Linked DNA regions of Homo sapiens: regions 2, 3 and 4 are each linked to region 1. Evidence: fine-mapped expression QTL. A gene starts in region 1. Each other region holds a variant in brackets. All regions are shown on one strand. Distances are between the middles of the regions. Region 1 holds the start of THBS1 (thrombospondin 1). Region 2 holds the start of LINC02915 (long intergenic non-protein coding RNA 2915). Region 3 overlaps LOC105370777 (a long non-coding RNA gene). Region 4 overlaps LOC105370777 (a long non-coding RNA gene).

The links.
Region 2: its variant is fine-mapped to the expression of THBS1 in whole blood (TOPMed, PIP above 0.99).
Region 3: its variant is fine-mapped to the expression of THBS1 in whole blood (INTERVAL, PIP above 0.99).
Region 4: its variant is fine-mapped to the expression of THBS1 in whole blood (TOPMed, PIP above 0.99).

Annotation. Positions count from the first base shown.
Region 1 is chr15:39,576,513-39,584,774 of GRCh38, forward strand. THBS1 (thrombospondin 1) reads left to right here and starts at 4,567. Exons shown (of 22, transcript NM_003246.4): 1 at 4,567-4,716; 2 at 5,317-5,412; 3 at 5,681-6,240; 4 at 7,105-7,180; 5 at 7,476-7,675; 6 at 7,788-7,910. The coding sequence starts at 5,346. It overlaps LOC124903470, which reads left to right and starts at 3,295. Exons shown (of 1, transcript XM_047433405.1): 1 at 3,295-4,482. The coding sequence starts at 3,806. The coding sequence ends at 4,240. RefSeq lists an enhancer at 3,658-4,395 and silencers at 3,818-4,047, 4,058-4,107.
Region 2 is chr15:39,247,653-39,255,914 of GRCh38, forward strand. LINC02915 (long intergenic non-protein coding RNA 2915) reads left to right here and starts at 3,017. Exons shown (of 2, transcript NR_144508.1): 1 at 3,017-3,211; 2 at 4,407-7,193. The region is part of intron 1 of LOC105370777 (a long non-coding RNA gene); the gene reads right to left. The variant C/T (reference allele first, on the strand shown) is at 5,295.
Region 3 is chr15:39,257,697-39,265,958 of GRCh38, forward strand. The region is part of intron 1 of LOC105370777 (a long non-coding RNA gene); the gene reads right to left. Among named protein-coding and RNA genes, the nearest start is that of LINC02915, 11 kb to the left of the region's middle. The variant T/G (reference allele first, on the strand shown) is at 2,857.
Region 4 is chr15:39,344,944-39,353,205 of GRCh38, forward strand. All of the region lies in intron 1 of LOC105370777 (a long non-coding RNA gene), which reads right to left. Among named protein-coding and RNA genes, the nearest start is that of LINC02915, 98 kb to the left of the region's middle. The variant T/C (reference allele first, on the strand shown) is at 3,393.

The DNA of each region.
Region 1 (8,262 bases):
AGCAGGTCAATGCCCCTGCCCCTTCACTGGAATCCATCCATCCTGGTTATTCTTTTCTTTATGAACCTGCTGGACTACATCTCAAAGTTACCCAAAAGAGGGATACAAAGACACAATAAAATCGGAAATAACGCTCACCCTTACCAGCCTGCAGTTAAGAGTGTGTGGAACTAGGGTGGCTGCAGGCAAAGAGATAGGGGGAAGGGCTGCCTCATGCCATGGGCAGGACAGTAAATGGTGCAAATTTTCTGGAAAGCATCTTAGTAATATAGGTGAAGAGCCTTTACAATGTGTTTATCCTATGACCTATCCTTACTTCTCTTATTCTAAAGGAATAAGAAGAGGTTTAATCAAAGCATGAGTGAAAAGGCCATCCAAACACAGGGAAAGGGGCCGTTATGATGTCTACGGTTCTAAGAAATAGAAAACAACAACTTGGCTTAAATAATAAGCACATAACCAAAGAAATCTAGAAGTAGGATTCCCTTAAGAGTTGAGAGATTTAGCAGCTCAAAAATGTGACCTGACATACGAGTTCTTTCTATGCTTTTGTTCTTCCTCCTCCAACACTGGTTTCACACTAAACTTGGCTCCCCAGTGGCCAATAGCACCAAACAGCACTTATCGGCATTCTTGTTGGTATCCAAAAGAGATGGAGAAAGCCTGATTTCACATGGCTCTTCCTTAAAAGCAACAAAGGACTTTTCCCGGAAGCCTTCAGCAAACCTCGTCAGATTTGAATCACATGCCAATTCCTAAATCAGTCACTGGCAGGGAAGTGGGAAAAAGGGGAGGAGGTGTTTACCCTTAACCAATATGCCTACCCCTGCCCACTGAGATCAATTCCATAAAAGTATTGCTTCAGTTCTTTGAAGAGGAGTACAATGTTTGTGAGTCACTCACCACATTTACCCACCAAGAGCTAAGGGATAACTGAGTAAAATGGTAGAGCTGGTAGGAAAATGGTGAGTAGTCCCGTCCTTCTGTGCCATAATTGACTTGTACACAAAGAGATTTGGAAATTTAAACATAAGAACTCTCTCTTCCCAAGCCCAGGGCTTTGGGCACTTCAAGTCTGGTCCTTGCCTGGGCACAGTGGCTCACGCCTGTAATCTCAGCAATTTGGGAAGCCAAGGAGGGTGGATCACCTGAGGTGATGAGTTTGAGACCAGCCTGGCCAACATGGCGAAACCCCAACTCTACTAAAAAATACAAAAATTAGTTGGATGTAGTGGCACACGCCTGGAATCCCAGCTACTCAGGAGGCTGAGGCAGGAAAATCGCTTGAATCTGGGAGGCAAAAGTTGCAGTGAGCTGAGATTGTACCACTGCACTCCAGCCTGGGAGACAGAGCAAGACTCCATCCCACCCCCCACCAAAAAAAAATTCTGGTCTTTACATGTGAAAAAATAAAAGCTAATTTTTAAAAACTAAATAATAAAGAGTGTTAGGTGATAAGTTTTATGATAGAGATAATGTGTGCTTTAAAACACACAGCATAAAACAGATGGAAAACACCTCATGGAGAAGGGAGAGCTTGAATTGGTGTTTGATTGAAGGACAAGAAAAATCTGTTGGTAACTTCCTCCTGGCTCTGACCTCTGATGCAGTTAAAGTAAAGCAACTTAGAATTATGATCTAGGGAACATATTCAGAGAGAAATGAATTTATGATGTCTTCAATTTGAAGATGCTATGATTTTAGACTATTCTAGAATACAATGATTTTTCATTGCTTCACACTTGTAAGAAATGTTCCACTACTGAAAATTTGCAACACTTAAAAAATTCCTACACAAAATCACAGCCCACCTTGCTGTTCTATGCTAAATAAACAAAATATTTTTTCTCAATTATGTTGCTCTCCTTAATTACACGCAATTTTAAAACTAGCTGTAACTGACAGCCCTTTCCTCACACTTACTGCCAATGTATTTAGGTCAATCCCACCTCCAATTAGAGAAACTTAGAAAAAGGAAATCCTACGGTGAAATGCCATATGCCTTACAATTTTCAGTAACTAATCCTCAAGGATGACAACTTGGCAAAAAAGAGAACTGGACCAGCTCCCTGAAAGGTCCATCACTTCGGCCCATGTTAATTGATTGCCTTAAAATCACAGTGCTTCCAGGTTGTAGAGACACACTCAAAATGGACTATTGCCCTCACATTAAAGGGGATAGGTTTTCTTTTCCCTTTTCCCATCCCTGCTTCTCTCAAAGCTGCACAGAGGTATATGAGGTTTGGGGAATATTTGCAGCACATGTTGGCTGGCAAGAATGTGGGTGAATTCCTGTTAAGGGGCGCAGACACTCCCTCTTCTATGACCTTTCCTTTCCACCCAGAACAACTGAAGTATCATGATAAGAGGAAGGGCTTTGTGTTTGAGATAAGCAGCTCCTATACCTGTCAGCTTTCTCTAATAAGAAAGCTCTTTCCTGCCACCGTATAGGTCACCTTCTTATTGGTAAAGCATGATGAAGTTTGGAAACTGTTGTCCTTGTTTTGTTGAAAGAAGCCAAGTTCCAAGAAATCTGCAGAGGCATTCCTACAATCCCTCAGCCATGGCAGCATGAATCCTGAAGGGGCAGTGAGTGCTGGTTTCTACTCTGTCTGCACAGCTAAGCCTAGGGGAGATAATCTTTTCATACAAGATGCATTCTGCTTTTGTGGGCCTCTTGCAGCCCTCAAGCCCCCATCTGATTTGTACACAATGATCCAGTGGGCCAGAGGAGCCCAGAGCCATGAGCGGCCCATCCCTCCAAGAACTATTTCTGACTGTCCAGTATCATGGAGCAAGTGGAAAGAAGAAAAAAAAAACCCAATTACTTTTCGAAGAGCAAGATGAATGCTGTAGAAGGAGAAGGAAGGGGAGGGAGATGGATGGGTGCCGATTCCAGAATCTTCAGATCTGCTTGGATGAATCATTACCTATGATTTGCGGGACAAGAATCTGATTTTATTCATCAACCAGTAGAAACTTTTCTTTCTGCCTCCCAACATCTGAAATCCAACAAACATGTGCCTTAGGAACATACCGGTCATCTTTTAGAGGCATTTTATATACATATTGAGTAACTAGAAAACACTCTTTCCGTAATACACACACACACACACACACACACACACCATCTTGTCATACAACACTCCCACGCAAGAAAAGCGAAACTGCTGTTTGATGAATGTAAACACTTGGCTGTTTGCAGCAGTCGGGAGTCCTGCCAGGTTTAAGTGCTAAGATGGGAGGTGAACCCCAGGGGTTTCCCCCTGCCCGTGCTGAGATCCTTATTTGGTCAAGCTTCTACCTATGCCCTGGCCTCGGAGCGAGCCCGATAGCGCTGGATCACAGCAGAGGGAGCGAGGCGGCTGACGTCCCATCCCGAAGAGATGAATGGAATTCCAGGAAGCTAGAGTCATGCTGGCTTGGGACAGTGGCTTGGAGACCAGACTTCAATGACAGAAGCACTAGGCAGCGGCACTCATGGCAATGTGTGCACCCACAGAAATGTAACCCACACCTCGGGTTCAGGAGCCGAAAAATGAAAAGAACGTTTAGGGAGGAAAAAGGGAAATACAATAATAGGCAGAGAGTAATTTATTACTCTATGGGTCTGCTCTGTAAATAGCTGAAGACTCTGGAGCCAGATGGTTCTGCAAATTCTCCAAACAGGAGTCACGTTAAGAAGCACGAGTGGGCACAAAAACTGTTTTTCAAGACACAATTTCAATTTGGCTTGTGGAAACTGGATACGAGTAAGTTTCCTTAAAATTCGAGTAGAAAGCAGCTGTCCTCCCCGGGCCCCTTGATGAGAATACGCACACCGCCCCCAAGCGGCCGGCCGAGGGAGCGCCGCGGCAGCGGGAGAGGCGTCTCTGTGGGCCCCCTGGCAGCCGCGGCAGGAAAGGGCCCGAAGGCAGCGAAGGCGAACGCGGCGCACCAACCTGCCGGCCCCGCCGACGCCGCGCTCACCTCCCTCCGGGGCGGGCGTGGGGCCAGCTCAGGACAGGCGCTCGGGGGACGCGTGTCCTCACCCCACGGGGACGGTGGAGGAGAGTCAGCGAGGGCCCGAGGGGCAGGTACTTTAACGAATGGCTCTCTTGGTGTCCCCTGCGCCCCGTCGGCCCATTTTTCTTTTTACAAAACGGGCCCAGTCTCTAGTATCCACCTCTCGCCATCAACCAGGCATTCCGGGAGATCAGCTCGCCCGAAAGCCCCTGCGCCACCCCGCGGGCCCTCCTAGGTGGTCTCCCCAGCCCCGTCCCTTTTCGGGATGCTTGCTGATCACCCCGAGCCCGCGTGGCGCAAGAGTACGAGCGCCGAGCCCGTGCGCGCCAAGGCTGCGTGGGCGGGCACCGACTTTTCTGAGAAGTTCTAGTGCTCCCAAGCCCCGACCCCCGCCCCCTTCACTTTCTAGCTGGAAAGTTGCGCGCCAGGCAGCGGGGGGCGGAGAGAGGAGCCCAGACTGGCCCCCACCTCCCGCTTCCTGCCCGGCCGCCGCCCATTGGCCGGAGGAATCCCCAGGAATGCGAGCGCCCCTTTAAAAGCGCGCGGCTCCTCCGCCTTGCCAGCCGCTGCGCCCGAGCTGGCCTGCGAGTTCAGGGCTCCTGTCGCTCTCCAGGAGCAACCTCTACTCCGGACGCACAGGCATTCCCCGCGCCCCTCCAGCCCTCGCCGCCCTCGCCACCGCTCCCGGCCGCCGCGCTCCGGTACACACAGGTAAGTCGCCCCCGGCGGCCGCCGAGGACCAAAGCTGCCCGGGACATCCACCTGGAGCGCTGAGGCTTCAGTCCCTCTGGTGGACCCCGGAACCTACACTCTCCCCGCTCGCCTACCCCAGCCCGCTCCTCTCAGCCGCTGGAGGACTCTTCAGGGCAAGGCTCCAGAGCCATCCTCTCCAGCCTTGAGGTTCACAAACCAACTCATCAGGACACCCCAAGATTTCCTTACTCTCTGAAGTCCTCCTTAAGCCTTTGTATCAGCACTCCAGGGAAGAGTCTGTACTTCCCCTGCCCTCCCTGCAACCCCAAACTACAGTTCCTGATCTTGCTCACCTTCGACTTCCCAAAAGCCCCCAAATTGTTGGTCTTGCGCCCCCCACACTTTAAAACCAGCATCTCTTTCCTCCACCTCTCTCTCTCTCTCTCTCTCTCTCTCTCATGCTCTCTGGAAAGTAATCCTGTTGTCCTTCATTTCAGCAAACGCGGGGTCAAAGAGGGATGGTCCCGGCCCTGTCCCCATGCCCAGCCCCGTTTCTGCGCACCGTCCCTCCCTGCCTAGCTGATCTCTGACCCTCGGCTCTTGTGCTTCCTGCTACAGGATCCCTGCTGGGCACCAACAGCTCCACCATGGGGCTGGCCTGGGGACTAGGCGTCCTGTTCCTGATGCATGTGTGTGGCACCAACCGCATTCCAGGTGAGTTTGTGTGGCACCTTTAGGGGAAGGAGGGACAAGGAAGAGGTGCTGGCTATCCCAGGTGTGCCCCCTCACGTGCTGTCCTCTCCCTCTTGAGCCTGACTGGACATCAGGACGCAGCTTCACTCTGATCCTGGTATTTATTCACCTCTTTCAGTGGTTGCCAGGAGTTTTCACCCCAACCCTTTGTCTCCACCCCTAAGGACTCAGCCCCCTACTGCTGGTCCCAGCCTAGAAAGCTCACTTTGTGTTCTCTCCTGTCTAACAGAGTCTGGCGGAGACAACAGCGTGTTTGACATCTTTGAACTCACCGGGGCCGCCCGCAAGGGGTCTGGGCGCCGACTGGTGAAGGGCCCCGACCCTTCCAGCCCAGCTTTCCGCATCGAGGATGCCAACCTGATCCCCCCTGTGCCTGATGACAAGTTCCAAGACCTGGTGGATGCTGTGCGGGCAGAAAAGGGTTTCCTCCTTCTGGCATCCCTGAGGCAGATGAAGAAGACCCGGGGCACGCTGCTGGCCCTGGAGCGGAAAGACCACTCTGGCCAGGTCTTCAGCGTGGTGTCCAATGGCAAGGCGGGCACCCTGGACCTCAGCCTGACCGTCCAAGGAAAGCAGCACGTGGTGTCTGTGGAAGAAGCTCTCCTGGCAACCGGCCAGTGGAAGAGCATCACCCTGTTTGTGCAGGAAGACAGGGCCCAGCTGTACATCGACTGTGAAAAGATGGAGAATGCTGAGTTGGACGTCCCCATCCAAAGCGTCTTCACCAGAGACCTGGCCAGCATCGCCAGACTCCGCATCGCAAAGGGGGGCGTCAATGACAATTTCCAGGTGAGGCTTCTTCTCTGAGCCCTGCTCCGTGGGATCATCTGCTAGACAGGTGACCTGCCAGGAGGGCTACAGGAAATCCTGTCTGTAAACTAACGCAGCAGTTCTCAGATTTTAGGCAGCATGAGCATCACCTGGAGGGCTTGTGAAAGCTCACCCTGCTGCACCCCAGCCCCAGAGTCTGGGATTCTGTAAAACTGCAACTCTAACAAGTACCAGGTGATGCTGATGCCGGTGGTCTGGGAAGCACACTTTGAAAACTACTCAAGGAAACAAGAAATGGTTTTCCTTTAGCAGTCAGCCTGTTCAAGCCTTAGATACTCCTTAGGCTCTTAAGAAAAGAGCTTATTTCAAATGCATTCCCCCAATTTTAATCTTGTTTGAAATGGATACTTTCTATGGGCAGAATCAGTACCACTTTGCTATTGGATTCCTCATGGGGATGCAGCTGGTCTCACATAAAAGGTTAAAATAGCAGTTAGTTGTTGCTGTTACAGCTTCATCTGTGCCTTAACTTCTAGATCTTTGCAACGGTGGCTTTGAACTCCCACATTTAACTCTTTGACACTGGAAAGTGTCATTATATCCTCTAGGCTTAGGATCAGATTCCATTTCCTGTGTACCCAAGTAGGCTGATAACTGAATTCTTTGTAAAATACTCAAGACTTGGCAGAAGTCACAATTAAGATTTTGAAGTTGTTTGGCGATTAATGTTGCTGTGTTATTTTGACATAGTGATCTTAAGACAGCTCTTTGAAGCTTTTAGAACATCTATTGTATGCTTTTCCTAGCATACAGACAGTCTCCCCCAACCCCATCCCCACCCCGCTCTGCATTCTACAAGTAATGTGTGTCCTCTGCCCACAGGGGGTGCTGCAGAATGTGAGGTTTGTCTTTGGAACCACACCAGAAGACATCCTCAGGAACAAAGGCTGCTCCAGCTGTGAGTACCCCTCTATTTTTAGGGCACATAGGGAATCAGGGGGAATTCCACCAAAAACAAACTGAGGAATTTAGCAATAGTGGTTATACATAAATTACCCCCAGTGAGATCATCAAGAGGCATACAGAAGTGACTCCAAGGGGTATTATACACACACACGTATACACACGTGCGCATACACGCAACCCCTCTACCTGCATCCTTCACACCAAATGAAACGTCTTCTACCACTAAGAACTCAAGAGGCTGGTTGGTAAGAGTATCTATTTGAAGTTTTCATTTTGTTTCTTGCCAGCTACCAGTGTCCTCCTCACCCTTGACAACAACGTGGTGAATGGTTCCAGCCCTGCCATCCGCACTAACTACATTGGCCACAAGACAAAGGACTTGCAAGCCATCTGCGGCATCTCCTGTGATGAGCTGTCCAGCATGGTCCTGGAACTCAGGGGCCTGCGCACCATTGTGACCACGCTGCAGGACAGCATCCGCAAAGTGGTCAGTGGCCTCTGCACCCAGCCCGTTAGCATGAACCCTGGAAGGTTTATCGCAGATGGTCCCAAATGACTGAAAATGCGGGGGGACACTAATGATATTCTCTCCCATTTAGACTGAAGAGAACAAAGAGTTGGCCAATGAGCTGAGGCGGCCTCCCCTATGCTATCACAACGGAGTTCAGTACAGAAATAACGAGGAATGGACTGTTGATAGCTGCACTGAGTGTCACTGTCAGGTAAGGGACCTTCACCAGCCAGAATAAGAATCGACGGCTTTTGTTTGAACCTACATCTTTGGGGAAATACCCTAATCGCCACAGAGATTCTTTTTATGTTCCATGGCCTGATAACAAAGTGTTTTTTTTTTCTTTAAGATGCAATTATGGCATCTATAAGTTCTTCTTTAAACTCTCAGATGGTTTATCAAAGTATTAATTATACCCCAGGCTAAGTATCTAAGAGAATGAATCTACTAAGACATCTGAATAATTTACCTACCTTAGTTCAAAGACTAAGTGTTGAATGTCAGGTAAATAAAACCTGGTTGGAACATTCATTTTTTTTTCCCAACCCTGATTTATATTCAGC
Region 2 (8,262 bases), 330 kb before region 1:
ATAATATATCAAGTTTGGACTGCAAACCAGAGCTTTCAGCAGAACATAGTTGAGTCTTTGCCATAGACACCAACTCATTTCCTTCCTTTCTGTGGCATTCATTCCACTATCATGCATTTTTTCCCAAATGAGATGACAAAATGGAAAGACCATTTCTACACCAAGCATTGAGCCATAGGAAAGCGGAATGTCAGTCAGGGCATCTGCAGATCAGGAAATCATGTCACAGAAAACAGGACCTGTATAAGATCTAAGTTTATGCCATTTGCTGATCAGTTACCATATTTCAAAAATTATACACACTGTAATCCCCTCTCTCTGTTCTGCGGGCCCTTTGAAGAAGAAGGCATTTTTAGCAAATGTCCTTTAAATGGAGAAAAGAGGCAGATCAATTTACTCCAAACTACTTCAGATTAGATCTTAGTCAGAATGCCTCCCCAGAGTGGAAGCTCTTCTCCAGAAGTACCTTTCCTGTTGGATTCAGGTTCAGGGTTGGAACCCACAGACCCAGAATGATAGGCTATCAGCAAAGAAAAGCATGTCATTAGCATCCAGCAGCCCTCAGTTTGTCCTTGTCTCCTTCATCTTCCTTCAAACTTCTATTTTTCTCTTAGATTTCCCTGAAACTCTTTTAAAAATTCCTTTTGAAACAAGTGGGTGCCTGACTCATTGCCTATTTCCTCTGTTTTCCACCCAAGTGGTAAACAATGGGCTCTATTCAAATATGGACCGTCTGTGAGCTGGGAACCTGCGTGCAGACAAAGCTCCTTGTCCCAGGGCAGACTGCCAGACCCATGCTCTCCTCCACTCACCTCCTAGGCTGTTTAATAAGGGCCACTTGGCAAAAGGCAACATATTGTCATGGTCCTGTGACCTTGTAGTTCTCTGTCTCTTTTCCCTTCAGCCCGAAAGAATATTTCTCTAAATTCTCAAGTCAACGCATTTGAGAACAGCCTTTCAAAAGATACTTGTAGGAATAACAGAAGGTAGTTCAGGACCCAGTCAAAAGGACTATCTGGCTTTATTTACAATAATTTTAATGCCTCTGTCCTAACTCCTCCAAAGTTATTAATATTTTGTCTGTAGATGGTGGTTGCCAGGAAAGAGAATCTTGCAAAGTCAAGGGCATGACAAAGCTGAGAAATAGAGAAGGCTAGCCTAAGACTTTGGGAAGAGAAAGGTGAAGGAAAAAAATAGTAGGAATCAGACTATGGAACAAGAAGAACGGGACAAAGTTTCAAGTCCAAAGTGAGCAGGTAAGACAAAAATAACTGAACTTAAATGACAGAGTAGTCTTCAGGGAAAAAAAGAGAGAGAGAGAAGAGACTAGAGAACACATTTGCTTCAAGTGCTTGAGGAAAGCACACCTCCAGTGTGTAGAGGAATCACAGGAGGAGATTTTGCATATGGTGTCCAAACTCCCTTCCCAAGAATTTATGTTTCCTGAAGAACACTGCCAACTTCCCCCCTCCATCTTAAAATGGTAAGAAAGAGAGTTAAAGAGAAGGTAAGGGAAACAAATAAATAATTACGATAATCCAGTTATATTAGATATGTGTGCATTTTAAAATAACTTCAACAACCATATGAAATTGTGGCTCTTGTTCCTGTTTTTTTTACAGATGAGAAAATTGTAGCTTATGGAGTTTAAATAATTTGCTCACAGTCACAGAATTAGCGCTAGAATTTAAAATCAAGTGGTATGACTAAAAAACCATGAGAAAATTCATTCCTTCTTTTACAAAACAAGTCACTCTCTACTGACAATCAAACCCAAGTCCTCTAGATTCTCCATAATATTATTTACATCTATCCTCTTCTATCCAGCCCTACTGTCCCTCCCTCATAGCTTACTAAGTTTTCCCCAAAAGCCTCCTGACCTCCCTTCTCTGTGTCCCCCCATTCTTTTCCTTTCTTCTTTCCTTTTCCTTCCTCTCTCAACATGTATCTCATCAATTCCAACCTGCTTAAAACCCTTCAGTGACTTCCCACTGACCTAAGATTAAGTCATTGCTCTCAAATATGGCACTGCTTACCCATTGTTCTGCATATTATATTCTCTCTCCATCACTTTCTATGTTCCAACCACATTGGACTTCTTTAATATCCTCAAAACTACAAGTCGTATACCAGGGAAGGGCTTTTACACAGGCTGTTTATTCACTGTGGAACACTCCCTCCTCCTCTTCTCTTAGCTCAGCCATTCGCAAACTTTTGGGGCTCGGCCCCTTTGTGCTCTCAAATCTTCTGAAGAACCCCAAAGACCTTTTCATTTTAAAAAAGGTAGATTATATCATTATATCATGTTGCAAATTAGAACCAATTCTTTTTTAAATATTTAATTCATTTTAAAACAACATAGTAAACTGATTATACCTTAACATAAATAACATTTTATGAAAACATAGCCACGTTTTCCAAAACCAAAAATACATGAGTGAGACTAGTAGTGCTGTTATGCATTTTTTGCAAATCTTACCAATATCTGGCTTACTAAAGGATAAATGGATTCTCATGTCTGCTTCTGCATTCAATCTGTTGTGAAATCTATGTTATGCAGCTTCTGTAAAACTCCATTGTACACTTGTAATGCAATAAGAATGAAAAGGCAAATGACTTCTTAGTATTATAGGAAAACAGTCTTAACTCCTCCCTAAAAGTGTCTTAGGCAGAGACATCCAGGAAACCCAAGGTATACATTAGGAACTCTTAATTATCCTTAATATCTTGTCTTAAAGTTAAAATTTGCAAAGATGTCTTTCCTGACCTCAAAGAATAGGTCTGAGTCCTCTTGTTATATGTTTCTATAACATTCTTACCTCTCTGTCAAAACACTCACCGTACCTATAATTTATTCAATAATTTGCATAAGGACAGGGACCATACCAACTTTGTTCATAGTGAGTCTCCAGTGCTCAGCACACAGCAAGGACTCAGAAAATCTTTGTGGGAGGAAGCAGGAAATAGAAGGGGGAGAGCAAGGAAGTAAGGCCTCAGACTCAATGACACAGCTCCCTGACAATCGCTCCATTCCTTCAGCAGGATGTACACAGAGATATAACTTTCTACAGCATCCACTGCAGCTCTGGGCTCCATTTCCCTTTGAAATGGGATGGGAGAAAGGGGCAGGTAACAGACTGGAGTGAGGAGACTGAGGAGAAACTGTAGAGAATAATACTTAGGAGTACACGTGCTGGATTCTCTCATTAAGGTAATCATTCAATATTTACTAAGCAGCTACAATTTGCCAGGCATTCTTCTGGGCACTTGGGACACATCAGTGAACAAAATAGAGAAAAGTTTCTGGCCTCAAGCGATTTACAGGCAGACCTGAACTCAACCACACATCCCTCCACTTGAGTTGGCCTGGATTGTTTGTTTAATCTTCTTGTGCCTTATTTCTCTCATCAGTAAAATGTGAACAAGCCTTGAGAGTTTCCAGGTGAGAACTAAATGAAAGAATATCTTTAATGTACCCAATAGAATCAGGCACCTGGTAGGTGCCTAATAAATGGAAATCTTTCTGCTGGCAACTCTTATTCCAAAATTGATTTTTTTTTCATGTACAGAAACTATTCGATAGATTAGAATCCAGTCACTCACAGGATATCACTTGGGTAGTTGTCGGGGAGGGGGAGTGGTGTATTTAGGGTCTTCTCAGGATTCGGGGGGCTGGCTGCAGTGTCATTTTCCTATAGAGAAGCATCACCTCTGGCTTCCTCTCTTCTTCACAAGCCACCTGGATATGTTTACATTGAACTATGCAAGGTACTATTGTAGTCTTAAGCTATGCAGTATTTCAAAACAGACTTTCCTGAGGACTCTTACAAAAATAATTATGCCACGAGTGTCAGACTATTTGAAAGAAGATATTCATAGCCAACTGTTTGTAAGGGACCACCTCCTTACATGGGTTTATTGTGTATCATAGGGTTGCTGGGGTTTTCCAACTTCACCCTCTGAGTGTGGGTTGGCCTTTCTGAGAAAGCTACACTGCCTTTGAAGTAGGACTACCAGGAGAGAGGGGGGAAAAAAAAGTGTAGGGCTCTTTGACTTTTCATTTCCCTTTCTATCTACTTACTCTTTGTGCCTTCTCCAGTTAGTACCACACTAGAGAAGTGTTAGGTAGAGGAAGAGGAAGAAAGAAAAAAGGACAATCTTATCAGTTGATTTTGCTATGTGTTACCAGTCTGGTAAAAACATTTGAAGTTAGAAAGTATTCAAACATGAATAAAGTTTGGGAATTACTTGTATGGATTTAATTTCCTCAGAATACCCTCATTGTTCCTTCGCAGGAAATATTCATGAGTCAACTATCCAGAATCATAGTTATTATTCAAGCGGTGTGGGTTTAAAAGGAGATTTGATGCCATGGCAAACCTCACTGACTTAGACTGTTCTTCAAGTTAAAGAGCAGGATGATGTCTGAAGTGGCTGAAACACATATGGCTTCAGTGTGTCAAGAAGACCTGAAAGATCCCACATGGAAGTGAAATTCATTACTGGCAAGCACGGTGGCAGGAGACCCCAGAGGGCTGAGCCGCAAAGAATTTGCAGAGCCTTATGGCTAACTCCATGGCCTAGTTTGATCTTGAAGTTACTGTCTTGGATAATCCTCTCAAATCTGTTCCTGCACTTAAGAGCCACTCATCACATGACGGAGCTCCCTCTCAGGTTCCTTTACATCGCCCTGTCAGAAATGACTTTCAGGGAACAGACATCACATCAAATCATCCAACAGATGTCCCTTTCAAATAAGTTGGAGCAGAACCAACTATATGGAGAAGTCATAAACAAAGAAACAGACAACCCAGTGATTTCCAGCGGATTGACATTACTCTTTGCACAGAAACCTCAGTCTCCTGGGTGGAAGAACATGAGTTCAACAAAGCGTGTGTGCACTATATTGGCTGACTCTTGCCGTGCTCAGGCTCATGCTGCTGACAGGGGAGAGAGGGGACATTTTGGAGTCCAAATCTTGCATCATTTCATTGAAGTGTTCAATGTCATGGCTGTAAGAAGTAACCCATTTTAATAACTGGCATCAAAGGATTTAGGAGAGAGAAACCCAGTATCCAGACCCATTTCCGTCAGTGACACTCTCCTCGTATTGGGAGGATTGGCCAGAATCGTCTGATTCCTGTTTCTGATTTCCTTCCTCACTGGCATCAGAGTATTTCACTATAGGAAAACTAATATCTAACTGAGCTCCAAGTGCTAAATAACAGCATCTCATGTTCATTCCGGGTCACCAAGAGGTTCAGGGTGACCAAGTCACAAACTATAAATTTGAA[C/T]ATTTGATGATTTTTGCAGGAGACTGGGTGAACAAAGGAAAACCCGAGAGATACATAAAGGTGGAAACTAGGATTTCTCATTTGAATTATTTAACATGCCTCACTCTAATGGTTATAAATGTAAAGGAAATGCAGGTTCTTCAAGAAGGTGAAACGAAGTTACTGAATTTAAGTTTTTTTTTTTTTAAACCTACTTTAGAATAGGAAACATGCTTACTAATATTTACAAGGCACTACAAGGCACCAGCCAAAAAGCCTGATTTATTGGCAGGATATTCTTGTTGTTGTTGTTTCTATTGTCCATATAGGCAGGCAATTAATACTTTTTAGAAAATTAAGTTGCCAACTCAACACTGCCTACTTTTGAATTTTTATTCTAGCAACAGCCGATAATTTATTGGAAATTCCTTATGTGCTGGGCACTACGCTAGACATTGGGAGTACGAAAATTAATATGGTAAAGATCCTGGCTTTAAAGAGTCTTTAACATTATTTCAGCAGTTTTATTACAGGTGTATATGTTGGAATTGACAGAACACTTAGCTCAAAGCAAGGGTTCAAGCATGACTTTGCAGAGTAGATTTCAGCTGAGCTTAAAGGATGTGAGAATAAGTATACACATTTTTTAAATTACCCAGAATGTAGTGCCTACAGAAGTGCTTGAGCCTCAGTTGCTTCTAAGAGTCCAACTTCAGAACTTGTATCTTCTAGATTGAGCTCATTGCTTAATTTCTAGCCAACATAGCCCATCTCTCTCAGCTGAATACTAAGCTCATCAACTTCTCCTTTGATCTAGGTCTTGATTAGAATGTTGAACATGACAAGGCTGAAGGCAGAAACCATAGAAACTTCTATCCAGAGTTACACTCGTCTCTTAATAGCTGCCTACTGTTGCAATCAGAATAAACTCACTTCTTGCCCAATTATGACAGTTCATTCACCTTCTACTCAAGGGAGACTTTAAGAATTGTTGAAGTTGAACTTCTCAGGTTCTTATACTTAGTGACACTGTTCATGCAATGGCTCAGTATTTCTTGATTTCTCAGAACCAGCAAAAGTCACAAACTGAATCCTCAAATTGGAATTCGTAAGTGACTAACTTGTAGCATAACTTTATTATACTAGGAAAGATGGGGCAAGGGACAGAAAAAATATCTGTAACATCTTATATGTTCAAATATAAGCGCTTTATGTATATTTAGTCATTCAAACTCCAAATACACATTAAGAAGTAGTCATCAATATTCCACTCTCTAATTCTACAATTTCTACCTTTTTAGATTCCACATATAAGTGAGATCATATGGTATTTGTCGCTCTGTGCCTGACTTATCTTACTTAACATAATGTCCTTAGGTTCATCCCTGTTTGAAAATGGCAGAATTGCCTGTTTTTTTTTTTAAGGCTAAATAGTATCCTATTTTGTATATTCAGCACATTTTAAAAAATCTGTTCATCAGCTGACGGACACTTAGGTTGATTCCTTATCTTGGCTCTTGTGAATAATGCTGCAATGAACACAGGAGCTCAAACATCCCTTTGAAATACTGATTTAAATATCTTTGGGTATAAACCCGGAATTGGCTGTGGGGAGTTAGACAGGGAAAATGTCCACATTGCTCTACGGATACAAAGTTTCAGTTAGGAGGAATAATTCTGGTGTTCTATTGCACAGCACAGTGTCTATAGTTAATAGTAATGTATTATATATTTCAAAATAGCTAAACAAAGAGAATTTTAATGTTCTTACCGCAACGAAATAATTGTTTCAGAAAATAAATATGCTAATTAGCCTGATTTGCTCATTCCACAGTGTATATACATGTATCAAAAAGTCACATTGTACCCCATAAATATACAAAATTATTTGTCAATTACAATAAAACTTTTTTTTAAAAAGTAATTATCAAGGTCTCCATTTGACTGATAAAACTTAGATTAAATCTGAGCTAGAACTCAGCGAATATTGCACCAAATGTTCTTCCCATTATGCTCCTCCCTCTTCCTCGCTAAGATTGCGCCCCTTCTCCTCCCTAACTCGCCACAAGTTCCCATCACCCTTCACTAGTTTTCAAACCAAGGAAAACATCATTCAATGAATGATAATACTTGACCAAGAACTTTTAAAGAGTTTTGAGTTAAAGAAAATGTGACTTGGGTTAAAGTCACATTTTAAACTTGTGATTTGTGTTAAAGAAAATGAAACCCCTAAATGACTTTTCTTAAATAGGCATTCAAAAAAAATTGACCTTTTAATCACTTAATCCTCACATATCTATATGCTATGGACTGAATTGTGCTCCCCAAAATTCATATTTGAAGCCCTAACCACTTCCCCACAATGTAACTGTATTTGGAGATAGGGCTTTTATTTAGAGATGGAACATTGAACCTAATTAAGGTTAAATGAGGTCATTGTCATTAGGGTGAGACCCTAATCCAATAGGACTCGTGGGTTTATTAAAAGAAGGGACTGATTCTCTCTCTCTCTCTGCCTCTCTCTGTCAGGTAAGGACACAGTAAAAGGAAGTAATCTGGGAGCCAGTAAGAGGGCCCTCCCTAGAATCTGATCATGCTGGAATCCTGATGTTGGACTTCCAGCCTCCAGAACAATGAGAAATAGATTTATGTCATTTAAGCTACTCAGTATTTTGTTAAGGCAACTTCAGCAGACTAATACACTATATAATCTATGGACCCCCTCCAGGAATGCCATTTGGACCATTTTACAAGAAGAGTATGTGAGATTCAAAGGGGTCATTAGGACATACGATGAGGAAAGTTGGTTATTCCAGGGTTTTACTTACTAAATTCCAGTACATAATTCGAACCACTGTGGTACACAGTACATTTTCCCACAGGAATGCCATAGCCTGCTATTCCAACAGGATCAGGGAATCAAAAGTGAGCAAATTCAGGCGGTGCAACTGTACTATATTGGACAGATGGACAGATGGGCATGACTCTG
Region 3 (8,262 bases), 320 kb before region 1:
ATCATACTGAATGGGCAAAAACTGGAAGCATTCCCTTTGAAAACTGGCACACGACAGGGATGCCCTCTCTCACCACTCCTATTCAGCATAGTGTTGGAAGTTCTGGCCCGGGCAATCAGGCAGGAGAAGGAAATAAAGGGTATTCAATTAGGAAAAGAGGAAGTCAAATTGTCCCTATTTGCAGATGACATGATTGTATATCTAGAAAACCCCATTGTCTCAGCCCAAAATCTCCTTAAGCTGATAAGCAACTTCAGCAAAGTCTCAGGATACAAAATAAATGTACAACAATCACAAGCATTCTTATACACCAATAACAGACAAACACAGAGCAAAATCATGAGTGAACTCCCATTCACAATTGCTTCAAAGAGAATAAAATACCTAGGAATCCAACTTACAAGGGACGTAAAGGACCTCTTCAAGGAGAACTACAAACCACTGCTCAAGGAAATAAAAGAGGATACAAACAAATGGAAGAACATTCCATGCTCATGGGTAGGAAGAATCAATATCGTGAAAATGGCCATACTGCCCAACGTAATTTATAGATTCAATGCCATCCCCATCAAGCTACCAATGACTTTCTTCACAGAATTGGAAAAATCTACTTTAAAGTTCTTATGGAACCAAAAAAGAGCCTGCATCGCCAAGTCAATCCTAAGCCAAAAGAACAAAGCTGGAGGCATCACGCTACCTGACTTCAAACTATACTACAAGGCTACAGTAACCAAAACAGCCTGGTACTGGTACCAAAACAGATATATAGATCAATGGAACAGAACAGAGCCCTCAGAAATAACGCCGCATATCTACAAATATCTGATCTTTGATAAACCTGAGAAAAACAAGCAATGGGGAAAGGATTCCCTATTTAAATAAATGGTGCTGGGAAAACTGGCTAGCCATATGTAGAAAGCTGAAACTGGATCCCTTCCTTACACTTTATACAAAAATTAATTCAAGATGGATTAAAGACTTAAATGTTAGACCTCAAACCATAAAAACCCTAGAAGAAAACCTAGGCATTACCATTCAGGACATAGGCATGGGCAAGGACTTCATGTCTAAAACACTAAAAGCAATGGCAAACAAAAGCCAAAATTGACAAATGGGATCTAATTAAACTAAAGAGCTTCTGCACAGCAAAAGAAACTACCATCACAGTGAATAGGCAACCTACAAAATGGGAGAAAATTTTCGCAACCTACTCATCTGACAAAGGGCTAATATCCAGAATCGACAATGAACTCAAACAAATTTACAAGAAAAAAACAAACAACCCCATCAAAAAGTGTGTGAAGGACATGAACAGACACTTCTCAAAAGAAGACATTTATTCACCCAAAAAACACATGAAAAAATGCTCATCATCACTGGCCATCAGAGAAATGCAAATCAAAACCACAATGAGATACCATCTCACACCAGTTAGAATGGCGATCATTAAAAAGTCAGGAAACAACAGGTGTTGGAGAGGATGTGGAGAAATAGGAACACTTTTACACTGTTGGTGGGACTGTAAACTAGTTCAACCATTGTGGAAGTCAGTGTGGCGATTCCTCAGGGATCTAGAACTAGAAATACCATTTGACCCAGCCATCCCATTACCGGGTGTATACCCAAAGGATTATAAATCATGCTGCTATAAAGACACATGCACATGTATGTTTATTGCGGCACTATTCACAATAGCAAAGATTTGGAACCAACCGAAATGTCCAACAATGATAAACTGGATTAAGAAAATGTGGCACATATACACCATGGAATACTATGCAGCCATAAAAAATGATGAGTTCATGTCCTTTGTAGAGACATGGATGAAATTGGAAATCATCATTCTCAGTAAACTATCACAAGAACAAAACACCAAACACTGCATATTCTCACTCACAGGTGGGAATTGAACAATGAGAACACATGGACACAGGAAGGGGAACATCACACTCTGGGGACTGTTGTGGGGTGGTGGGAGGGGGGAGGGATAGCATTGGGAGATATACCTAATGCTAGATGACGAGTTGGTGGGTGCAGCGCACCAGTATGGCACATGTATACATATGTAACTAACCTGCACATTGTGCACATGTACCCTAAAACTTAAAGTATAATAAAATAAAATAAAATAAAATAAAATAAAATAAAATAAAATAAAATAAAACAAAATAAAAAAAGATCTCTCCTCTACATAGAATGAGTTGACATTTCCTCTTTACAAACTTGCTAAAAGTAGCACCCCAGGCACTTGTCACTTAAATGAGATAGGTATTTAACCAAGACGATAAAATATTAAAACTGAAAAATTGTATGTGTCAGCCACATATAAGATCCTGGGGGCAACTCACAGACTATTGGGTCCCCTCAGGATCTATGGCTCCTAACCTGGTGGGCCCTACTAGTTTCTGGAAGGTGGAGGAGAGCTGTCCTTAGAATTCTGGAGAACTTATCACTATCTACACCTACCTTGTTTATCTGTTTGTTCATATGTATATTGCCTGCCTCATCCACCACTAGATTGTAAACTTGAAAGTAGGGACATGTTGTCTTTTCAGCCTTGTAGTTATAGCTCCCAGAACAGTGATTGGAAAAGAGTAGATATTATAAAAGTGTTCTGAATAATTAAATGAATGAATAAATGAATCCATGCTGCTTAAAATATACCCTTCCCCTTTGTTCCACCTTCCTGTGTGGACAGGTGCAGGGATCCCTCCAATGACAAACAACTGAGCAAAGAGTTATGGAATCAGACATCAAAAACAAACATAAAAGAATGACATATCTTCCAAGGAACAGGATTCTTGAGAAACATGTCTCTCCTATCCAAAGGGTGCAATTAGGAAATTTCCATGATTA[T/G]GAAAAGAAATTTACTGGCCATTCTTTAAACTCAAAATGGCTAATGCCTGGTGTGTGCATGTGTGCGTGCCTGTGTGTGTGTGTGTGTTTATGGGAAGCAGTTGGGGAAAAGCATTTAAATTGGCTCTTAGAGATGCTTTTTGTGACAAGAATGTAAGATAATTATAAACCAAATTTTTCCCCATAATAAATGAGTTATAGTCAATAGTAGACAAGCAAATACCTATTGACTAGGAATTATATGCTGAATAATGTATTCAGCTGCTAAGGCTATTGTTATAAAATATCACACACTGGGTAGCTTAAACAACTTAAATTTATTTTTTCACAGTTCTGGATGCTAGAAGTCCAAGATCAAGGTACTGGAAAATTTGGTGTCTATATTGAGGCTGACAGACACCTGCCTCCTCTCTGTGTCCTCACATGAACTTTTCTCTTTGTATGCAGAGACAGAGAGAGAGAGAGAGAGAGAGAGAAGGAGAGGAGAGAAGAAGGGGGAGGGGAGAGAGAGAGAGACAGTTTACTGGTGCCCCTTCCTCTTCTTATAAAGACATCATTCCTATCATATTAAGCCCTACTCTTATAACCTCATTTAACCTTAATCACCTTCTTAAAGCTGCTGTCTGTATATACAGTCACAATGGGGGTTAGGGTCCCAAATATGAATGGGAGAGGGCACAATCCAGTTCACAATAGATGATAAAGGAGAGAATATAAATGAGACACTGATTTTCTCAAAAATGTTTCAATCTAGAGGTGGGTTGGGGAGTGGAAACCAATGCTGCCCTTGCAGAACTTTAACACCTGACCTGATAGGAGTTCCAAGAGAGATGTGAAAAACAATTGCCCTGAGACTGCCAAAGGAAAACTAATGAATTTGATTTAAAATTATTGAGAAAGGCTATGTAAAGGAAATATTAGAAAATCCCACAAATATGAGACTCCATAATAGCTTTCTTCTGAGGCAGATTTCAAAAATAGCAATCTGGAAGAATTTAACAATAGGGGAATGGAATGAAACCTCTGAAAGAAAACAAGATAAGATCTATGAAAAACAAAGCTTTAAAATACTAGAAAAAAATCCCTCTTTGAGAGAACTCAATAATTGGATATATGTGAAGGTAGCTGCTTTCTGATTTATTATAAATGTCTGGTTCACAGACCGCAGCAGCAAGGTCTTATCCACAAAGAAATAAGTCTAAACAAAAATTGACAGTATGTATCTCAAAATAATAAGAGCTATTTACGACAAACCCACAGCGAATATCACACTGAATGGGCAAAAACTGGAAGCATTCCCATGGAAAACCAGCACAAGACAAGGATACCCTCTCTCACCACTCCTATTCAACAGAGTGTTGGAAGTTCTGGCCAGGATAATCAGGCAAGAGAAAGAAATAAAGGGTATTCAGTTAGGAAAAGAGGAAGTCAAATTGTGCCTGTTTGCAAATGACATGATTATACATTTGGAAAACCCCATCGTCTCAGTCCAAAATCTCCTTAAGCTGATAAGCAACTTCAGCAAAGTCTCAGGATACAAAATCAATGTGCAAAAATCACAAGCATTCTTATACACCAATAACAGACAGAGAGCCAAATCATGAGTGAACTCCCACTCACAACTGCTACAAAGAGAATAAAATACCTAGGAATCCAAGTTACAAGGGATGTGAAGGACATCTTCAAGGAGAACTACAAACCACTGCTCAACGAAATAAAAGAGGACACAAACAAATGGAAGAACATTCCATGCTCTTGGATAGAAAGAATCAATGTTGTGAAAATGGCCATACTGCCCAAGGTAATTCATAGATTCAGTGCCATCCCCATCAAGCTAGCAATGACTTTCTTCACAGAATTAGAAGAAACTACTTTAAAGTTCATATGGAACCAATAAACAGCCTGCATTGCCAAGACAATCCTAAGCAAAAATAACAAAGCTGGAGGCTTCATGTTACCTGACTTCAAACTATACTACAAGGATACAGTAACCAAAACAAACAGCATGGTACTGGTACCAAAACAGATATATAGACCAATGGAACAGAACAGAGGCCTCAGAAATAACACCACACAACTACAACCATGTGATCTTTGACAAACCTCCCAAAAACAAGCAATAGGGAAAGGATTCCCTATTTAATAAATGATGCTGGGAAAACTGGCTAGCCATATGTAGAAAGCTGAAACTGCATCCCTTCCTTATACCTTATACAAAAATTAATTCAAGATGGATTAAAGACTTAAATGTTAGACCTAAAACCATAAAAACCTTAGAAGACAACCTAGGCAATACCATTCAGGACATAGGCATGGGCAAGGACTTCATGTCTAAAACACCAAAAGCAATGCAACAAAAGCCAAAATTGACAAATGGGATCTAATTAAACTAAAGACCTTCTGCACGGCAAAAGAAACTATCATCAGAATGAACAGGCAACCTACAGAATGGGAGAACATTTTTGCAAACTACCCATCTGACAAAGGGCTAATATCCAGAATCTACAAAGAACTTAAACAGATTTACAACCCCATCAAAAAGTGGGCAAAGGATATGACAGACATTTCTCAAAAGAAGACATTTATGCAGCCAACAGACACATGAAAAAATGCTCATCATCACTGTCATCAGAGAAATGCAAATCAAAACCACAATGAGATACCATCTCGTGCCAGTTAGAATGGCGATCATTAGTCAGGAAACCACAGATGCTGGAGAGGATGTGGAGAAATAGGAACGCTTTTACACTGTTGGTGGGAGTGTAAATCAGTTCAACCATTGTGGAAGACAGTGTGGTGATTTCTCAAGGATCCAGAACTAGAAATACCATTTGACCCAGCCATCCCATTACTGGGTATATACCTAAAGGATTTTAAATCATGCTGCTATAAAGACACATGCACACGTATGTTTACTGCAGCAGTATTCACAATAGCAAAGAAATGGAACCAACCCAAATACCCATCAATGACAGAATGGATTAAGAAAATGTGGCACATATACACCATGGAATACTATGCAGCCATAAAAAAGGATGAGTTGGTGTCCTTTGCAGGGACATAGATGAAGCTGGAAACCATCATTCTTGGCAAACTATCACAAGGACAGAAAACCACACACCTCATGTTCTCACTCATTGGTGGGAATTTAAAAAATGAGAACACTTGGACACAGGGCGGGGAACATCACACACTGGGACCTGTCGGGAGTTGGGGGACTTGGGGAGGGATAGCATCAGGACAAATACCTAATGTAAATGACAAGTTGATGGGTGCAGCAAACCAACATGGCACATGTATACCTATGTAACAAACCTGAACGTTGTGCACATGTACCCTAGAATTTAAGTATATATATATATGTATATATACATATATACATATATACACACACACACATACACACACATGTGTGTGTATATATATACATATGTGTGTGTGTATATATACATATATGTATGTGTATATATATACATATATAATTGACAAAATATCTACATATCTATGTCTATACTCACATATTTACCAACGTGCAAGCATTTTAGAAGTCCCTTGATTCTAATTTATTAATCTGAACAAGTGGACATTTTTTAATAGGTGAATAACTTCTACTGATAAAACCACATTCATCTATGATTAAAGAACAAAAAGCCCCTTTTCCTAGTTTATGTTTTCTTATGTGGAGGGATATAAACTCCTGTTAATAATGTGCTGCTACAGAGAGCCTTCTTTCTAGGATATCTAAGACCTGGGATTTCTCTAATCATGGGTGTTCCTACCTAGGCTTGACCTGCATTTAGGGAAACAAACTGGCAGTTTTATGTTAACAAATATAATGTCAATCTGTCTGTCTTCAAATATATTTTTAGCTAATCAGCAGGACTTCCGCAGGACATATCACTTTCAAAAGAATGGCCTGCATCTGATTCCAATTTGAAATCTTGTATTTTCCTGTGAAATCACTCCAGCAGTATCCTTCAAAGCCCATTTCCTACCATGTTGCCATTCCCTGTTTGCCTGTGACCCCTCTACTAGACTGCAACCTCTTCGATGACAGCCCTTGCCTTGTCCACTGCCATATCCCTGGCACCTCGCATAGGCAGTCTCCCCTTGAAGGTTTTCAGCCTAGGTCATGAGTGTTCCTAACAGCCATTTTCCAAAGTTATTCATGCTTTTGTCTGGAAAACTTTCCAGTCTAGCACCTGGACTGGAAACCTTCACATAAAAAGTATGTTCTTATGCAAAAAAAAAGCAAGTTGATTATAATATTTTAAATTGAATGCATCTGTTAACTAAATGGTAACAATAGACAAATAGACAACTGAATGCATCTCTTATAATTTGGTATGGCTTAGCAACTAAAGCTTCTGCCAATGAAACGTACGCATAACAGTGAATGCAACTTCCAAGAAGTTCCTTAAAAAGAGGAGTTGCTTTACCAACCCACCTGCCTCCTTCCAGCTAGCTGGAATGTGGATCTGATGGCTGGAGTTCCTGTAGCCATTTTGGATGATGAAGTTCTTTGAGTAAGAAAGCCATGTCCAGTGAAACAACAAGACAGAAGAACCCTGGATCCCTGATGCAAAGAATCACTGACTACCTTTCCCACCTCCAATTCAGACTCCTTTCATGTGAGAAAAGAACTGCTCTCTTGTGTAAATGGCATTATTTTGCTTTATTTTGACAATCATGGCCAAATCTAATCCGTAATCTTAGCGTCTGAGAGAGCAGTTTATCAGTCCAGCATCTCTCAGGAGATATTAGATAATTTATAATGGTTTCATAAGGGCCTTTGGGGAGGAATTTATTTTAGTGCTATGCAAAATGTCATTCATGGACCAGTGACAATCCACAAGCTATTTGTTGTGGGTCTGTGACAAGATAATTATGAAATTTGACAGTAAGCGTTTAGATGCTTTTATAGCAATTTCACACTTATCGCTGAAACAGCGTGAGTTGTCACCCTTTCCTAGTGAGTCACATGTAATGCAAGCTGCCTACTAGTCATGTACAATAGGATTGCATGAAGTGTGACTTTTAAGGATACTTTTGTCAGCTGTTACCCAAAAGTGTTTAAAAATCAGAAAAAGTATAAATGTATATGAGATATGTAACTTTTTGCTTACACTAATTTTAATTTTAATCAAGTCTGTCTGAAATCTACTTTTATTGTCATTAGCTATATTAGAGAACTGAAATTCATATTATTAATGGTAATCCCAACTTACAGATAGAAAACAAGCTTCACTAAACTATTTTGTTAAGAAAAGACCGGCCTATACTGATTGTTCTTGTTAATTAAACGATAACAATAGACAAGATTCTAAAAAAATGGAAACTATGAAGCTGTACTAGTTTTACTTAGGTACTAAAAGCCCCACAAAGAACTCACTCTAGGCTGAATCC
Region 4 (8,262 bases), 230 kb before region 1:
TACCCACACTGAGTATGCAAATGAAATCTCCTCGAGTTTGTTGTTGAAGGAACAGGATGATACCAGGGGCATCAGGTAACAAAAAGAACTGTTTTGTTTTGTTTCATGAGGAAACATGGTAAAGTCTATTGTCAAAGGTAACAATGAGAGGGCTCAACTCTCTAGAGCTGACACTCTTTTCTAAATCACCTTGTGCTCTCCATTTTTTTCCCCTTCTCCCAGAGGCTTTGGTTAAATCTTTTCCTAAATTTCAGTGCTTTCATTGCCTTTTTTTTAATAACAGAAAAGTACTGAACTCACATAAAACAGTGATTTAGCCAAGTGGATTGTGACAATTCAGCAGATGCTTAGGCCATAACAAAGAGCCTCTCACGTAAATCTCTCGTAATGTCTTTGTTCTCAAAACAAAGAATCCCTAACTCTTGAGCCGAATTGGTCAAGAATCCAATGTGCCCCTAAGTGGAAATTCTACAATGTTGTAAAATGCCTAAGCAACATTTGTTTTCAATTGCCATTATCCTTTCTCCCCATTAAGGAGGAAATTCTTGTTAGAAAGAATTCTAGTGTCAGTATGTTTCATAACACCAAAGGATAAAGTAATTTGGAGAAAACCAAAACTTACTTTTTAAACACATAAATGTGCTGTTTTCATACTGCTATTCATATTTACTGCATGACGTGGTACACAAAGAATATCAACATGTCATGAACAAATGGTAAAATCTGCATCTATTCCGAAAAAAACAAAAAGATAGCACCACAAATGATACTGGATTAGTCTTCTGCTAGTCAACAAAACTTAGTAATTAATGAATCCCTCTTATGTGGCAAATGGTGGAGTTTTTCTGGCCTTTCAATATGATGATATCTAATCATTATGTTAAATTAAAAGACGGATTTTTCTTAATGCACTACATAGTCCCAAAAGTTAATTATATGTAAGAGCAAAAGAATAGAGAATAATTAACCATAAAATAATCTAGGGAGTCAGACAATAATGTTTAATAAGTCCCCTTTTTTTTCTAAGGACTATTTTGGGAACATTAGAAAAATGCACAAAGAAAAAACATTTCAAGTGACATACATATTATAATTCAGATTTTCATTACAAGTAAAATAGGAGTTTTCTTTTTCTTTGGAAAATATTTCTTTCCAAAAAGATTTACTAGAGTCTTTGTTTAGAAAAATGAGCAACTCTGATAGCTTTTTTATTCAATTCATAAAATTTGCATTTACTTTCAAACTTTTAGCACACTTTGCGCATTAAGAAAAGTATACCTTAAGCCGGGCACAGTGGCTCATGACGGTAATCCCAGTACTTTGGGAGGCTGGGGCAGGTGGAACACCTGAGGTCAGGAGTTCAAAACCAGCCTGGCCAACATGGTGAAACCCCATCTGTATTAAAATACACAAATTAGCTGGGAGTGGTGGCGAGCATCTGTAATCCCAGCTACTCTGGAAGCTGAGGCAAGAGAATTGCTTGAACCCGGGAGGCGGAGGTTGCAGTGAGCCAAAATCACGCCATTACATTCCAGCCTGGGTGACAGAGGGAGACTCTTTCTCAAAAATAAAAAAGAAAAGTATACCTTAAAATATAAACTTTTAAAGTCACAATTTAGGGGAAAGAAGAAGAAAATAACTAGGAAATAATATTTTCTTTCCTTTTGCATGCTTCAGGCAAGTCTAATTCCAAACACAAAAGGGAAAGGGTATGGAGCACAGACACAGAAGAAAGAATTCCTGAATCTTTGGTCTGCTGACCTTCAACAAATAAATAAACATTTAATGCTCAAGTGCTTGATCTGGACAAAAAGAGTTGAAATACAAGGCCCTGTTTATTTCCAAGGACTCTTGTGAGGAAAATATGACATAAAATAGGTTAAGTGGATTTTATTAATTGAAAATCATCAAATATTTATTAGACAATATTGGTAGAAAACACCAATAAGATATTAAGGAAAAAATACCAATGTCTTCTGAGCCCCTCAAATCAAACTATAGAGAGCTATTTATTCCATTTTTCATGCCTGCAGCTAATTAGAGTTGGCCCTTCATATTTGCAGGTTTGGCATTTGTGGATTCAGCCATGGATTAAAAATATTTGAAAATGGCTGGGTGTGGTGGCTCATGCCTGTAGTCCCAGCACTTTGGGAGGCGAAGGCAGACGGATCACCTGAGGTCAGGAGTTCCAGATCAGCCTAGCTAACACAGCAAAAACCCATCTCTACTAAAAATACAGCAGTAGCCAGGCAGGGTGGTGCACACCTATGATCCCAGCTACTCGGGAGGCTCAGGCGGGAGAATCACTTTAACCCGGGAGGCAGAGGTTGCAATGAGCCGAGATCGTGCCATTGCACTCCAGCCAGGATACGAAGAGCGAAACTCCATCTCAAAAAAAAAAAAATTGAAAATGAATTTTAAAAAATAACAATGCAAAAATAAAATAATACAAATTAAAAATATATTATGGTTTAACTATTTACATTGCATTTACATTGTATTAGGTATTATAAGTAATCTAGAGATGATTTAAAATATACAGAAGGATGTATATAGGTTACATGCAAACACTATGGCCATTTTATGTGAGGGACATGAGAATCCATGAATTTTGGTATCCACAAGGGTCCCCTACAGTTACCTGGGAAGGGCTGTATGGCCTTAGGCCAAATGTCTAACATTTTTTTTAATGGAAATATTCTGCTATTTCGCAATATTAATGCTTATTCTACTAAGATAAAGTTTCATATAGAAACTTTGTTGTTAAGCTTCTTTGTGTTGTAACTTTGTCCAGTGGTGCAAAGAGACAGATTTCATACATCAGTAGGAATTGATGGAGTATAAATGGGTAACAATAGTATCCCTGAAAATTTAAAATGTCCTCATTTCTGTAAACAAACATTACACTTTGAGGAATTTATCCTATAATAAAACTTGCATAGGTACACTATTTTCACTTTCCCTTGGTCATCTTAGTAAGTATAAAAATATTAATTACGATATTATTTTAATAGCCTGGATTGTAAATGATATAAATGCTCTTCAATACATTAACACATACACTTATTTATTAATCGGTTAAATAAATTATATATATTCAAATAACAGAATGCTATTATAGCTTTGAAAATAATAAAGCAGCACTGTGTAAACTTACTAATGATAGCCCCTAAGATACTGGAAAGTAAAAAAAAAAAAAAAAAACAGAATATTGCATAATACACTATTTAAAGGAAAAAAAAAAAGATGATACATGTGTTTGTGTTTTTGTGTGTGTGCGTGCACATTAGGACCATCTCTGAAAGAATTATACAAGTGGTAACAATGGTGGGGCGGGGAACTAGGAAACTGGGGGATGGGACGTGATAAGACTTACATTTTATTTTATACCC[T/C]TTTATTCATTTTGAATTTTGATTCATAAACACGTAATTCAAAAACTATTTTCTATAAGCAAAATTGACAAATGAGATTTCCTATCACAATTTTAGGTTACTTCCCTGATGGATAATGGCTGCAACATTCAGAAAAATTCACAACTAATTTAAAAAATTACATTACACCTTATTTTTCAGAAAATCTAAAACATAATGGTTTTTAGTTTCCATGATGATTTCAGTTGTTTCTCTTCTGGAAAGCTGACGTCTTTGGAAGAATCAAGCTTCCTAATTAGATTGTCATCTCATTTGTGACAAGCACTGAGGAATTTTCAGATGATAATTGAGAGTCAAAAAGGCCACAACATTTTGCAAAGGTTTCCAGGCTGTGTGGGAACATCATAAAAAGATGGTTCTTCTCAAAGCTACTGAGATGACTACCAAATTTAAAAAAAAGAAGACAATAAAATAATCCAGACAGATTCACAGAATCCTAGTGGGGACTCATTTCTCTAGGACCAGAGGAAGGTCATGCCAAGGATCGCGTATTCTCTATTTTGCCCTCTACCTTGGAGGTAAGACAGCAGTTTAACTGGGGCCAGTGGGAAAAGAGGTGAGAAAAAACCAGGGCAGGTCTGAAATGTGGACATGAACATCAATGGGGCAAGGGACAGGGTGCAACTAGGCAGGCAGATCAGGGTCCCAGCATTTGTGTCCAGTCCATATGGTCTGATGTGAAAAGAACGACAGAAGAAATATCTAGGCCGTGGTGAAATACAGGTGTCTGGAATTGGCACAGTCTGAGAATTTGTGGGGAGACGATTTTAATCTAATTTAAATTAGGATCCTAGTTATAGCTAAGTGACCCTGGGCTAGGGTCTAGCTGTTGGGAAGAAAAGCCTAGAAAACACTAGCTGAGGTTCAGCTACTTGGGTGTTAACCTGGGTAGAGGCTGAATCCCCAGCATAGAGTAAGCAACATTGAAAGATGTAGGAGGTGAGGATGAACTTGGTGAGCAGCCAGGAGAAGACCTCACCCTAGACATATGGGACCAAGAAGTCCAGCAGCAAGGCCAAATCCAGAACCCAATCATTGGGAGAAAAGTGTGAGTAATTTCTAAGTCATGATCCTTAATTCTGTGCTCTTTTTTATAGTTTTATTTTTCTTTCTCATGGAACTCAGTCTGATGTATTCCATTATTATTACCCGACTAATTACTCCAAATGAATATCTCACAGCCTGTTCTAACAAGCAATGTCCTACACTCCTTTCCAAGACTTGTTTATTTCTTTGCTTGCTTGCTTTATTCTCTAACTACAAACTAGACACTTCCTCTGGGATGTTCCACCATCATTTTAAACTCAACATGTCTTCTTAAGCCAAATGCAACACCTTCCTTTCCCTTCTGTCTTAGTCTATGTCTGCTGCTATAACAAACTGCCTTAAACTTGGTAATTTATAAACAACAGAAATTTCTCATAGTTTTGGAGGCTGGGAATTCCAAGATCAAGGTCCAGCAGATTCAGTGTCCAGCGAAGGCCCATCCCTCATAGATCGTACAATCTAGGTGTCCTCATATGGCAGAAGAGGTGGAAGGGCAGAAGAGTGCTCCCTTCGACCTCTTTTATAAGGTCCTATTCCCATCTGTGAGGATTCTGCCCCCATAAGTTAATCACCTCCTAAAGGCTCTACCTCAATATTATCACGTGGACAGTTAAGTGTCAGCATATGAATTTTGGCAGACACATTCAGACCACAGCATATTCCTTTTTTCCTACCCCTCTTCCTCTCTCCCCAGCTTCTTTGTTCTGTTACCGGTATCTCCATTCTGTCACCCAACTTCAAAATCATGTAGCTATACTTTTGCCACCTTCTTAAAATAACCCAGAGTCAGAAAGTTCAGCATTCATTCATTCAAATATTACACTGAATGCAAAGTTAGACAAAACTTCATTTCAGATACTGTCCCCTCTTAGAAATGTACCTTCTTTCTGTTCATTTCTGCTTATTCCCACCACTATACACTCAAGGTCTTCATAACATGTATCCAATTATTGCAAAAGCTTCATATCAGGCCTCCATGATTCTGATTTCTACACCTTCTAATTCATTCATTTCTTTACATTAATTTTAAGGTACATTTTCATGTAGGCACTGCATTGTAATTCCCTGGTGCTTACCTGCCCCCGTCTCTAAACTCTATGCTCTTTAAGGGAAGGCCCACATTAATCTCTCCTACCATCATATCCCAGAGCCTATATCAGGATATGAAATACAATAGCTTCCAAGAAAATTTATTTAATGCTTGAAAATGTTCAATATCTCCCTGTAACTTGTTGCATCAAACCTCTACATCTCTGCTTAGTTCTCGTGTGGCCACAGATTGTCTATTTACCCATACTGCCCATTTCTTCACCACCTGCTCCCTCTGTATTCCTCAGGCTTATTTATTCACTCTATGCTAATTCCCATCTTCACTAACTTATCCCCACTGTCCTATTGCCTGAAATGCCTGCCTTTTCCCTCCCTTCCAGAGGGCCTTGACTCTGCACTCAGCTGCAGCAGGTTTTCCAGCTAAAGAGGGCAGTTGCAGAATGACAGCCATCCCTCTTCCTGCCTTCTCAGAGAAGCGTTCATTGCCCCCTCCCTTTCCACAGTGTCAGAGCAAGGACGTGCTCTCTCCCTCCTAAGGTTTTGGCAACTGAATGCAAGTCTGTCAACGATGCAAAGGGAGCCAAAGGGCAGAAAATAAAACCTGTCAGAGGCTACAAAGAGGTCCTTCGTCCAGCACCACCCCACAACCCCCAAGTTCAGCAGGGCAGGAGGGGAAAAGGGCAAGGAGGCTCACAGACTCTGCTACACCAGAGGTTAGCATTCATTTGCTTCCTAATTCCCCAGCCAACCTGCTTCTTGGGTAAAAATTGTGAACTTGGCAAACCTGTATTTTGTCAACAACGGTTCTTCAATCCCCTCAGCATTATTACCATCTGAAAGCTAAGAAGCTGGAACAGCTTTTCAGGGATGCAACAGGCTAGAGGCAACTGATCATTTCAGATACCCTTCACCTGTGGGTTAAGGAGGCCGGAGCCACATCCCAAACATCCTTTGCAATTGCCATAAAGCATAAGTTTAATTAAAACATTTTGTTACATGCCGTCTCAAGCACCAAACTCTGCAAGAGATTCTAAGTATAGAGAGGTGAAGAAGAAGTGGCCTCTGGTGTCGCAGCAGCCCTGGCATCCCAGCACATCCACCCACGAACTCAGTTACAAGCCCACAGAAGGTTTCCCATCACCACGTTTGTCCCTCTGGGGATAAACTCCCTCTAGAACCCACTTTCTTTGCCTCTCTGACCTTACTTCAAGCCACTTCTGTAGAGTTCTAGAGCTTTTTTTTTTTTTTAAAGACAGTGGTTCTGTCACCCAGGCTGGAGCTCAGTGGTGTGATCTTGGCTCATTGCAACCTTTGCCTCCCAGGCTCAGGTGATCCTCCTCCCACCCCAGCCTCCTGAGCAGCTGGGATTACAGGCATGCATGACCACACCCAGCCAATTTTTATATTTTTAGTAGAGACAGGATTTTCGCCATGCTGCCCAGGCTGGTCTCGAACTCCTGACCTCAAATGATCCACTAGCCTTGGCCTCCCAAGGTCCTAGGATTATAGGCGTGAACCATGGTGCCTGCCCCAAGATCTAGATTTTCTTATGCACTGCCCATCTTGCCGACTTAATGTTTTGCATTGTTCACTTCTTCCTTAATTCCGAAAGCTCTCTTTTGACTTTGCACTCTGATTCCCCTTTGCCTCCAGCTTCTCCCATACAGAGTCTTATAGGTCTTATTCTCCCATACAGATTCTTACAGGTCTGGCTATCAGAATCCAGGTCTGATGATGACTGCACAACATGGTTGGACTTAATGCCACTAAGTTGTACACTTAAAAAATGGTTAAGTGGTAAATGTTATGTTATGTTTATTATCACAATACAACATATACATATATATATCCCAAGCCCAGCCGGAGCCCCTAGACCTGGCCCCGGCAGCAGAAGCCATCACCTGCTGTGAAGGAACTCAGACTCAAATAGGAGATACACAATTTAACATCCATTAATTGAGGGAGAAATTACTGACCATCTACTACACGTTAAACACTGGGAACTGAGAATTCAGGGAAGACCATGAAAAATATACTACTGTCTTTATGAAGCTTAATCTAGTCTGGGACATAGTCATCAAGCAGACAGGCACAAAATTAAGTAATTCATTAAAATACTAATAAATGCAATGAAGGGAAGTACAGGGTCCTATGAAAGCACAGAGCTGGAGGATGGGGCTTCAGAGGAGACTTCCCTGAGAAAGTGACCTTGACACTAAGAAGTGAAGGACAAGCCATCATTTCCCAGGCAAAAGGGGTGTGGTGGGGATGGTGAGGGTAGGGCATTCAGGCAGGGAGAATGGCATGTATAAAATAAAGGACCTGTCACAAAAGGTAGGAATTAATGTGGTTCTTTTGAGGGACTGCTAGAAGCCAACATAGGGCCCAAGCAGAGAGGCACAAGACATCAGGCCAGCTGCCTGACACAAGCTCCAATAGCCTGAAGCACTAAACCTCCATGAAGAGTTAATGGCTCACATCTGTAATCCCAGCACTTTGGGAGGCCAAGGTGGGCAGATCACCTGAGGTAAGGAGTTCGAGACCAGCCTAGCCAGCATGGTGAAACCCCTCTCTAATAAAAATACAAAAATTAGCTGGGCATGGTGGCACATGCCTGTAATTTGGAGCTACTTGGGAGACTGAATCAGGAGAATCGCTTGAACCCAGGAGGCAGAGGTTGCACTGAACCAAGATCGCGCCACTGCACTCCAGCCTGGGTGACAGAGCAAGACTC